Homo sapiens: one gene and its partners. The protein of the gene in region 3 purifies or fractionates together with the protein of the main gene of each other region. This does not show direct contact. Each region holds a gene or a part of one and is shown on either strand. Other genes may lie near its edges. The genes, in order: GOLGA4, RCC2 and GEMIN5.

Region 1 (3,652 bases), on a different chromosome or scaffold from region 3:
CATGATGATTATACATTTACTTTGTAGCACTAATCAAAAGCTTTCTATGACTGCTGGTGAGGTACTTTTCAATATATCTTATCTTTACTATACTTCTCTCTCTTCAGTGAGTTTTATACTCTTTATTTAAAAAACCTCATTACAGGATACAAGTTATTACTGTTTTCAGAGTTTAACCTAGTCTCGAGTAGATTTTATAGATGAGAAATCACTATCTGTTAAGTAAGGTTAAATTACAGAGCATAATTACAGTCTGGTTTATTTGAGGGTCTTGGTGTATAGGGAAGGAATCTTAGTCCTTTGTTGACTTGCTGTGGAAACTCAGGCAATTCTCAGAGCCTCTTTTCTTCACAAGACTAACATAATCTTGTTAGGATTGTCCAGGAACCAGAGTACAGTTGCCTGCGCTGAGTGATAATGTAGGGATGGTGGTGATAATTATTTAGCCTCCTTTTAGCAATGTGTAGAACTAGTCTTTTCTGGAAAAAGAGACTGGAAAGGTAAATCATTGATGTGTATAAGAAAAACCATTAAAGACCTCAGTAGGAGGGTCAAGTCACACGGTGATACCAGCCCACAAAATGCCCCCATCTCCAACTTCGGTACCTTAGAGTGCCAGCGACATGCGACATTGCTGGGATGAGAGCCTAGATCTCAATGGTTTGACTGCTGTATAACTTAGCGCAAACTGTTTTCATATTTTTGACCCTCATTGGTAAAATGAGATTGTTGGATTATACTATCTCTAAGGTTTCTTTCCCCACAAAGTATAAAATCTTGTTTTATATTTGTTTCAAGTAGGAAAAAGAATTGCCTTCTAAACAGCAGGCAGAAGTTAAAACAAAATGCACATACCAAATGCACATATCTCTGTTTTTCCTAGAACAGCTTTTTTTCCCTCCTCTCAATTTTTAGTTTACTATACCTTGCTACTTCATTTTATGATGGTTTAGGTAGCTTAGATGGCCAGAGTAGACTGGATATTCGAGTAGCACAATATGGGCAAGAGTGAATACATAAGTTCTTGGCTCATCTAATTGTTAGTGTTTTTATTGAATAAAACTGCCCTAGAAGTACACCCTGATTTTTTTTAAAATGAGAGTATTATTACATTATTTAAGATAATTTCATTAGGAAAGTTTATTGTAATTGGGTAACAAGCATCTCAGAATTGAGATTCCTTTGTTATATGGAAACCCCTCTTTAAAAGTTTTCTTAGACATTTTTCTCTTTAGAGTGCTAGCAAAATGTAATGACATAAATGGACATCACTGTTTTCTTGATGACTCCATTAAAGAAAATTTCTCTTTGATGGAGAAGGTTGGCTTGTTTGTGTTCTCTGTCCATTCTAGTCATCTTTTTCAATTGCTCTTCTGTTGACTCTCCTTCAACTTTGCTTTCACACTGATTCTTGGTGGTGTATATAGTTCTTCATCAGTCCTTGCCCTGGACCAGTCTTGTGTTCTCTTAACGTCTCATTTTCTTCCCCTGTTGGAATTTTCAAAATTTCCTCCGAATTAATAAAATCAGAACTTTTCAGCATTGCTAGGTACAAAAGTTTTCCATTCCCACACGAGGTTTACCCTTTCCCTCTGCATGGGCTCAGAAGATGCATGCAAGGTGGGTTCAGGAAACACATACAAATAAAACTGACACATTATAGAAAATATTGCACATGTCAAATACATATTTGTTTTCTTGAGATTGGTTTTGATTCTGGTGTTGGTAGAATAAGGTAATACGTGATCACTGGAAAAAATATTATAAGCCAGAAACATAGAAAGGGAGTCCCTCATGATCTTCAGCCTCCAGACTACTTCTGCTATGCCAGTATCATCTCTGTGAACAGTTTGGGGAATATCTCCATGTTTTCTAAGCCATGTAATTACATATTTATAGTTACTCCTTTATCATTCATTTTATTTTATAAAAATGAGAGTATGCAATGGCTTGCTTTTTTCACTTAATATATTTTTATATTATTCCACCTTATTACAAATTGGTCTCATTCTTTTCAATGGCTGATTGTATGATTATATGGATGTCCTACAGTTTAGTTCACCAGTTTCCTCCTCATTCCATTTACTTATGTTTTCAAGATTTTCAGTACTTTACAAGCATAGACATAGGGAACATCCATATACATGGATTTTGTATACTTCTGCCAGAGAGGATATTAACCTCATTGTGTTGTGTGTGTTGCACATATTATTTTCTAGCTTGTCTTTTGGTTTTGCTGCTTTTTACTAACTTTAAATATGAAAGATAAATAAAATGATGTTTCTGAGGTTGGCCACACTATCCAAGAATAGACTCAGATTTTATAAGCAATCTTTGTTTTTAATGCTGCCATTTTAAATCACCGTGAAGGTAATTAATGATTTTGGACAATGACCATCTTAAAATGGGGCATAGAATTTATTTAAGGTTTGTCACAGTAAAAACTATATTTGAGATTGAGTTTCCTTAAATTGAAATTTCAGTTTGGGTCACCATTCCTGAAACCATTTCTGATACATTGTTGAATTACAAGAGAGTTATTCAGTGATCAAATTGACACATTAGGAATGAGAATTCAACATATAGACACATGGCTCTTCAAATTCATCATCATTTTCCCGAAAACTTTTTAGGGTAAATTGAGATTATGTAAATCAAATTTTAATGTGTACTTTCATGGAATTATGAAAGAGATCCTTTTGTAAAGCAAATAATTGCCCCGTAATTCAGCTGGTAAATATGTACTTAAAATATGCAGTACACCTTTCATTACGTTGTTTAAGTCTTCAAATGAAAGTTGCAAGTAAAATCTCAGCTACATAATATTATATTTACCTAGGATATGGGGGGAGGTATTACAGATTCCTTATTCCTTGCCTGTACACCCTTGATTTGGGGAGATTTGAGAAAAATTTAAGTACAGTCTGTAATCCTATGAACTTCATATACACATACAATCTATGTGTTATATTAAGTCTTAAAACTAACCCAATAAGCTTTTTTTCTTCCTGGCTTTGTAGTTTACTTCACCTCGCAGTGGTATCTTCTGAGTAAACCATCAGTCTGTGCTTAGTTAACATGTGGTGAGTGAAGAACAATGTCTTGTGTCTTTTGTGCAAAAATCAAATGTGTTGCCTGATACTAACCATTTTGCTGGAATTCTTTTGCTCTTGTTTAATAAATATATGATTATGCTATGGGTTAATATAAGTATTTTCTGTTCATTCTGTTATATGGATCGATAATAGTTAAAAATTACTACCACCAGTAAGAGTTATATAATTTTAGGAAATTTCATTTCTTTAAAGAGTAATTGAAAGTTTGAAAATTGCTCTTTGAAATTTTGTTAAAGAATCCAAAAAAGTATTTATGTAACTTATTTTCCCTTTTGTTTTTAATTTTCCAAGAATGATCTTTGAAATTATGATTGTGAGAGAGAAATGAAAAATCATTTTCTAGATAAAAATGAAGTGGTATATTCCGTGAGAATTCAAAATCCTGTAAAGCCTGAGTCAAGGCCAGTCAGAAATAATGAAAACTAGTAAGATCAATTTTAAAATATAGCTTCATTACTTCCTGAAATCAGACAGTTTAACACAAGACAACACATTTGTCCTGAGGAGACCGTTAGGCAGCCTACTTTAATTGAATG
Region 2 (3,652 bases), on a different chromosome or scaffold from region 3:
GTCACAAGGGGAACTCCACCACCCCACGCCCCATCCCCAAGGCAGACCACCTGGCCTCTTGCCAAACTGAGAGGAGACACCAGCAGCCACCTCCTTACCCGTCAAGGCCAAGGTGTGGTTCCGCCCACATGCTGCAGACACAATCACTTCGTGGCTAAGACCCTCGATGAGTCTAGGGGCTTCTACTCTCTTGGTGTCACCATGTCCCAGCTGCCCCTTCTCATTTCGACCTGCAGATCACATGAGAGAAAGTAGAAAAGAGAGAGGGTGGTCCAGGCGGCACCACCAGGAGAAGGCGAGTACAAACACACTCTCAAATGATGCCCATCTGTCTCTGGAAGGTACCCTCCAAATTCCCAACAGCCAAGATCCAGAGCAAAGAACGCCCCGGCCCTCTGCCCGCTGGAATGGCGCCTGCTGCAGCTCCCCGGACCTCCTTCCCTGGGGCAGCAGCGGGACCACCCGTGCACACCTCCCACGTCTCTGCTACAAAGGGAAATGAGAGGCTCAGTGTGGTAGGGACACCATGCACAGGCGGGCATGCTCGCAGAAACACGCCGTTCCCACTTAGAGTGCCTGCAAGACAACCACCCCGTCCCTACCCTCTGAGATGTATTTTAAGACAGCACCCCATTTTGACACCTGGCTCACCAGAGTTTAATCACTTTGGTGCTCTGGGCATCCACTGAGGACCATTTGGTGTCTGCCCAATATTTCTCTTCCTTTTTCTACCCTGTAAATGGTGCTCACATAACAGTGCCAATCCCACCCCTAGGGATCGCCCCTCAAGGACTCTCAGCCACAGGAACCCTGGTGACAAAGCACAGATCCACCCTCAACACAACACGCCCAGCCCCACCTCCAGGACTGCTGCAGGTGCGACCAAGGCCCTGTATCTGTGAATTCCAGCGGAAGGCAGGCCTGAGGGCCAACCCCTACCCCCAAGTCCTCTGCAGAACCAAATTCAACTCCAAACAGACGTGGAAGTTGGGTGGGCCAAAAGGAGGGCTGGGAGCCCCTACACCGCATCTAGGTTTCAACACAAACTACCAAGTTCCAAAACAAAAATTCAACCGGCCACTCTCGGATCCCTCCCGATAAGAGAAAAACCACACATGTAACCTGACGTGGGGAAACTGACGGAGATCTTACAGTGGTGAGAAGTCAGGGCAATTCTAGGGGGTTTTGCAACCTTCTCCAGCAATGAACTTTTCACCCTTAGGTTGTGATAAAGGCAGACAGCAGAGCCATTAAGATGAGTTCCAGCTGTCCTGGAGAAGGCTTGCAGGAGCAGCCTCTGACTACAGAAGGAATTGCGACGAAGGGAAACCAGCCTCTGACTCGCTCTAATTAAAGAACGGCGGGCTGAAGGGCCAGCACTGGCACTCGAGCAGGAGAGGCAGATACACCAGCTTCCAATGGGAGCTGCCCAAGTTCATGTGAAAGGCATGTGAATACAGAGCAACAAGTGCAAGTCTCAGTGGACTGAGATGCGGCAGGACAGGGTGAGCGGGCCACAGATGGAGACCCCACATGAGCAATGCGTCAGCCACCCTCCCGTGGTACTCTACTCACACCAGACGCCGCCCCCTGCCTTCTAGAGTGGCGAGCAGTGGGCCTGTGACACCTTCCAACCCTGTCCTCACCAACTGCACTGTCTGCTCGGGGATCACACGTCTTGATGGCGGGACATACATTGTCCCTGCCCACAGGGTCAGAACTGAGGGCGCTTTCAGAGCCACCACGCAAGTGAAGCTCAGCGAGAGATCAGAACTGAGGTATTTTAAGTTTGGAACACTGACATAAAAGGCTGTGTTCAGTGTTGGAACACAAAGTAGGAGGGGTGCTCTGGGGGAAGGGACACACATCTATGCCAACCGGGAGAAAACAAAAACTGTGGCAATGTCAGCATGTCATCAAGAGACTATAAAGTATAAATTTGGGCCAGACACACTTTAGCTTTTTTCAACAGAATTACAAAATTAGCCATGTGCAGGGAAGACAACAGATGTTAATATATTTGGACTTTGGTACAGCAGCTCATGAAATCACAAAAAACGGTTCAAACAGCCCAAAATAAAAATGCAGTCATATGGACTAAAAGCTAGCCAGAGGACCAGCGACAAAGGGTGGGGACAAACGCCAATATGCCCCGCTGGAGGCAGAGGCCGGGAGTCACCAAAAGGGCTGGGGATAAAATGAGCCTTAGCCCATACCCTATGATTGGAATGATCTGGAAGAGGACACGGGCAGGAATGGGCCGGCCGGCTGCAGAGGACAGTGCCGTGGACAGAGGCTAACAGAAGAACTGGAACCCATCCCGAGTGCCCAGGTGAGGAAAAACAGAAGGGAAAGCCGAACAACTCCAAAAAAGCAAACTGAAGTATCTGGGGAAATATCCTAAGAAGCAGACAACACGGACAGTGAGCTGCCAAGCCTGCAGACCAGACTTGGGCAGACCTCAGACACGAGGGCCATGGCGGCAGGGACGCAGCATCCTATGACATGAGGCGGGAGGTAGAAAAGCCAGTGGCATTTCAAGTGGCAGCAACAGAGGTCTCATGTCATATCGTGCCTCAAAGAGGAAGGAAACTGTCTGCTGGAAGGACAGCCTGCCTAACACACTCACACACCTCAGTATCAGAAAAGATCAAGCTTCGGGCAGAAGATTCAGGAAAATGTTCCTTGTGTAAACACAAGGAATCAAAGAAGTAGGGGCTGCGTATGGGCAAAAAATGTCAGGGGGGAAGGGGATCTGCATGTAGCGTGTAGACAAGAGACGAGCTGGGAATTAGGAAAAAAGACATGGGCTGTGAACGAAGGAGCCCAGCCTTATAAGACGCGAGTCTCTTTTCCAGGCAAACAGAAGAACGTGCTGTGTGGGGACAGCTGGTGACAGTGGTCCCCAGTGCCCAGCACCCGCACGGTACTCACCCCAGCTCCACAGCTTCCCTTCCGTGGTGATGAGGAGGCTGTGTGCAGCACACGAGCCCGAGACCACTGTCCGCACCCGGACCCCCGCCAGGCACCCATATCTGTGGGGCCCCCACAAATTCTGACCGAGATTGCGGTAAGCAGCTGCAGAGAGAATGAGAATGCAGATCAGACACCTGGGGTGGTGGGGTGACCTCCAAAATGTCACTGGCCACCAAGCAGCCACTTCCCGAGGGTACCAGGGACAGGTGTTCCTCGGGTGCCACCCTGCCTTGGCTGTTGGGAGGCTGCACAAGGATCGGGTTTTCACTTCGAATCTCTGCGATGCCTCTGAAGGCCCAAAAATCAAAATACCCAGAAGCTGGCACAGGCCTGGCGTCACCTGCCACCTTTACACCCATTCGGCCCCAGCCCCCTCTCTGGGTCCCACCTCTCACAGGGCTCAGCCCCACGTGTTCTGCCATTGAGCACGCCCACCCGCAAGTGCCCGGGACCTGGTGCGAGGTCTGTCCAGGAGGCAGGAGTGCTGGCTTTCCACAGCCGTCAGCTGAGGAAGAGGCTGACCCAGGAAACCCCGCTCACCCTGACAGTAACCTACCCCTCCTCCTCACTCCCTGCCGCCTGCCCCTCCTTTCCCAGGCTCTCCTGCCCTCCATCTCCGGCCTTCACCCTGGGCCAGAAGGCTCTTTCTGAGGGGTGACCCGAGTGTCCTGTCTTC
Region 3 (3,652 bases):
CCATGTTGGTCAGGCTGGTCTTGAACTCCCGACCTCAGGTGATCCACCTGCCTCAGCCTCCCAAAATGCTGGGATTACAGGCGTGAGCCACTGCACCAGGCCGAATTATATCATTTTAATTATACCTAAAACTTCAAATTTTATAGTTCAGACCTATGAAAGAGATAGCTAAGTTTTGGAAACTCTTGCAAACTAATTTTTTTATATTAGTGCGTGTTTAATGTAAATTAAAAACAAAATTGCCACCTATCTCATAGAAGAAGCTGAAATTACCAACGGGAATGCTGTAGCACAAGCTCCAGTAACAAAAGGTTGCTACTTAGCCACTGGAAGCAAAGATCAAACCATTCGAATCTGGAGCTGTTCTAGAGGCCGAGGTAAGATTGATCTTTCTTTTGTGATGTAACCTATGTTGATCTGGTGGAAGTAGAGGGTTTTCTGTTCTTATTGTCCTGAGGGTGTGTCATCTATTTGAGAGCAGTTCTTCACTTTTTGGTCTAGAATTCTGCTTCCTCATTTGAGCCTGGCCTAGACTCTCTATTCTCTCAACATCTGGCCTTAGAGATTAGTATTTCCCATGCATTCCAGGAGAAGACAAGGATCTCTTGCTTTATAGAAGGGTCAGTGTTTGGCATGGAGAGCAGAATATTTGTAATAAAAACAGGAATATTAGAACATGATATGGCCTAAGCCAGGAGAATGGAAAATATCTTAAGAGTTAGAGCTTTTAATGCACAAATGCAGAATAAATTACATACACCCAGCATAGAATTATGTGTAAAAGCTCATTTTATCCAAATTATAGAGCCCCTCAATCATTTAGCTTTCCCAAATGTCTCTTTGAACAGAACTTTTATCTTTAAGTTTAAAAATTGAGAGAAACTCTAGGCATAATGAATATTTATAGTATATCATAGAATATAACCTTTATAGTAAAAATCTTGTTTTTCTCTTTCTAGCGGGCTTCTCTTCTTTCTTCATTTTATTTTATTTTTTTTGGCAGTTTTTTAAGCTGTGGTGGAAAATATAACATTTGCCATCTTTATCACTTTTAAGTGTACATTTAAGTGGTATGAAGTACACTCTAAAGTTGTGCAACTGTCACAGCCACCCATCTCCAGAATTCTACTCTCCATTTCCCCCTCCCCCAGGCCCTGGCAACCATCATTCTGCTTTCAGCTCTATGATTTTGACTACTCTGAGTATTTCCTTTGAGTGAAGTTATACATATGATATGTCTTTTTGTGATTGGCTTATTTCACTTAGCATATATCCCCGAGGTTCATTGATGTTGGTACCGTATGTCAGCATATCCTTCCTTTCTAAGGCTGAATAATATTCCATTGTGTGTATGTCCCACATTTTACTTACCCACTCATCCACTTGTTATAAATAAAATTTCGGTGTGGCAAAAGAAATAGCACTCAAATATAAAACTTTCTTTTTAATTCTCAGCAAGGCAATGTACTTCTATAGAAGGGTGCGCCCTTACAGATGGAGCAATGGTGAGCGCACACTTGGACAACGGAGGGGAGGGGTTCTTATCCCTGACGCATGTGGCCCCTGCTGCTGTGTCGTTCCCCTATCAGCTAGGGTTAGACCGCACAGGCTAAACTAATTCTGATTCGCTGATTTAAAGAGAGTGCCGGGGTAAGTGGTTTGATGGGAGAAAATGGTTATGGCAGGAAAAATGGTTATGGCAGAGCAGGAAATCAGAATGAGTCAGGGTGGAGCAGGTAATCGGAATGAGTCAGGATGGAGCAGGTAATCGAAAAAGGTTGCTTTTACGAGGAAGTTAAGTTTAAAAACAGAAGCCAAATAATTGAACATACTGACATATTGATTCTTTGAAGAGAAATTTAGAACTCATATCTCACACACTGATGGACATTTGGGTTGCTTCCATGTTTTACTATTCTAAATAATATGCTATGAGCATGGATGTACTTTCTACTTTATTTGAAACCATGATAGTTTTATCATATTTGCCCAAATGCATGTAAAGCAAGTAGCACAGCACTTGGAATGTCATCCAGGCTTCATCAGTGGTAGGTAACTAATAGTATAATTTGGGAAGACAGAACTTTTTTAAGGTTTACAGGCTACTTCTTGGCATACTGCAGCTAAAACTCCAAGTGGGAACATAAGGCTGAGGATCCCTCCAGGAGGGTAACCTCTAGACTTAGAGGTGTCTGGTAAAATGGCCTTCAATTGTGGTTGTGCAGCAGAATCAGCTGGAGAGTCTTTGGAAAAATGTAGGTTCTTGTACCCCACCTCAGATCTACTGAGTCCGAATCTCTAGGAGTTAGGCCCTGGCGTATGTATTTTTTAAAGTTCCACCTGTGGTTCCGATGCACAATACAGCTTAAAAAACGGTGATTAGAAGCATGTCGGGTGGAGGTACTCCCCACCCACAGCACGTTCACTGCCAAATTTTTCTTTGTTGGATTTCTTGCCGACTAGAAATAGTAATCCCAACCTCTGTCCTTTTCACTTTGGAGTTATGTCACTGCAATACTTTTGGGTACACAACTCAGCTGTGTTACTAGCTGGGTTCTCAGTTTTACTTGGGAACTCATTTTCCCAGACGAAAAAATACTCTTTTTCTTTTGAGGCAGAGTCTCTCTCTGTCGCCCAGGCTGGAGTGCAGTGGCACGATCTCAGCTCACTGCAAGCTCCACCTCCTGGGTTCATGCCATTCTCCTGCCTCAGCCTCCCGAGTAGCTGGGACTACAGGTGCCTGCCACCACGCCCGGCTAATTTTTTTGTATTTTTAGTAGAGACAGGGTTTCACCATGTTAGCCAGGATGGTCTCGATCTCCTGACCTCGTGATCCTCCCGCCTCGGCCTCTCAAAGTGCTGGGATTACAGGCATGAGCCACCGCGCCCGGCCAAAAAAAAAAAATACTCTTAATACGTTGAGGTTGTCAAGATAGCCTGTCGAAGCTTGTTTGACCTAAATGTAGCTAGACTAGTATTAACCAGTATTTATAGTGATTAAAATTATAACCATAATAATGGTTAAAATTGTAACCATTGGAAAATGAGATCTGAATTCTAAGTAGCCAAACTAACAAGCTTTTACAGCGCAGACTGTGTGTTATGAACCACCGGTGACTTCATGCATGTAGTTTCACTGTCTTGAGTGCCCACTGGCCTTCTTTTTAATCTGCAGGGGTGATGATTTTGAAATTGCCCTTTCTGAAGAGAAGAGGAGGGGGTATAGACCCAACTGTTAAAGAGCGCCTTTGGTTGACACTCCATTGGCCCAGCAATCAACCAACACAGCTGGTATCTAGCTGTTTTGGGTAAGTCTTTTTTGGTCATGCTTTCTCAGATATATTTTGTTTTTCTATTTGGCCTCAAGTCCTCCTAGGATGGAGAAAGTAATGGCCAAGGCTTGTATTATGATGGGCCATTTGAAATGGAAAAATTATGAGACTAATGCCTGTGCTATCTACTAACAGAGCTGTAAAAAGATCACATAAGTATAGTCCGGCAGTTAGGAATATGGACTCTGAAGTCAGAACTAAATTTCAGAATCACTTTGTCACTTACTGCCTTGTATTCCTGAGCAAGACCCTTTACTTTTCTGAGCTTCAGTCACTTCAAGTGTAGAAAGGGGAGATGGTTATAATATTTTCTCTTAGGT

Evidence for each region.
Region 1: the proteins of GEMIN5 (region 3) and GOLGA4 purify together in Homo sapiens (affinity purification with mass spectrometry; one large-scale study listed by BioGRID and IntAct). This does not show direct contact.
Region 2: the proteins of GEMIN5 (region 3) and RCC2 fractionate together in Homo sapiens (co-fractionation; one large-scale study listed by BioGRID). This does not show direct contact.

The regions. Positions count from the first base shown.
Region 1 is NC_000003.12:37,358,223-37,361,874, forward strand, and holds part of GOLGA4 (golgin subfamily A member 4), read left to right. Parts: intron 1-3,020; coding exon 3,021-3,050; 3' UTR 3,051-3,083; intron 3,084-3,652. UniProt on the Homo sapiens protein: Involved in vesicular trafficking at the Golgi apparatus level. May play a role in delivery of transport vesicles containing GPI-linked proteins from the trans-Golgi network through its interaction with MACF1. Involved in endosome-to-Golgi trafficking.
Region 2 is NC_000001.11:17,422,607-17,426,258, forward strand, and holds part of RCC2 (protein RCC2), read right to left. Parts: intron 3,079-3,652; coding exon 2,935-3,078; intron 231-2,934; coding exon 99-230; intron 1-98. UniProt on the Homo sapiens protein: Multifunctional protein that may affect its functions by regulating the activity of small GTPases, such as RAC1 and RALA. Required for normal progress through the cell cycle, both during interphase and during mitosis.
Region 3 is NC_000005.10:154,928,183-154,931,834, reverse strand, and holds part of GEMIN5 (gem-associated protein 5), read left to right. Parts: intron 1-257; coding exon 258-377; intron 378-3,175; coding exon 3,176-3,308; intron 3,309-3,652. UniProt on the Homo sapiens protein: The SMN complex catalyzes the assembly of small nuclear ribonucleoproteins (snRNPs), the building blocks of the spliceosome, and thereby plays an important role in the splicing of cellular pre-mRNAs.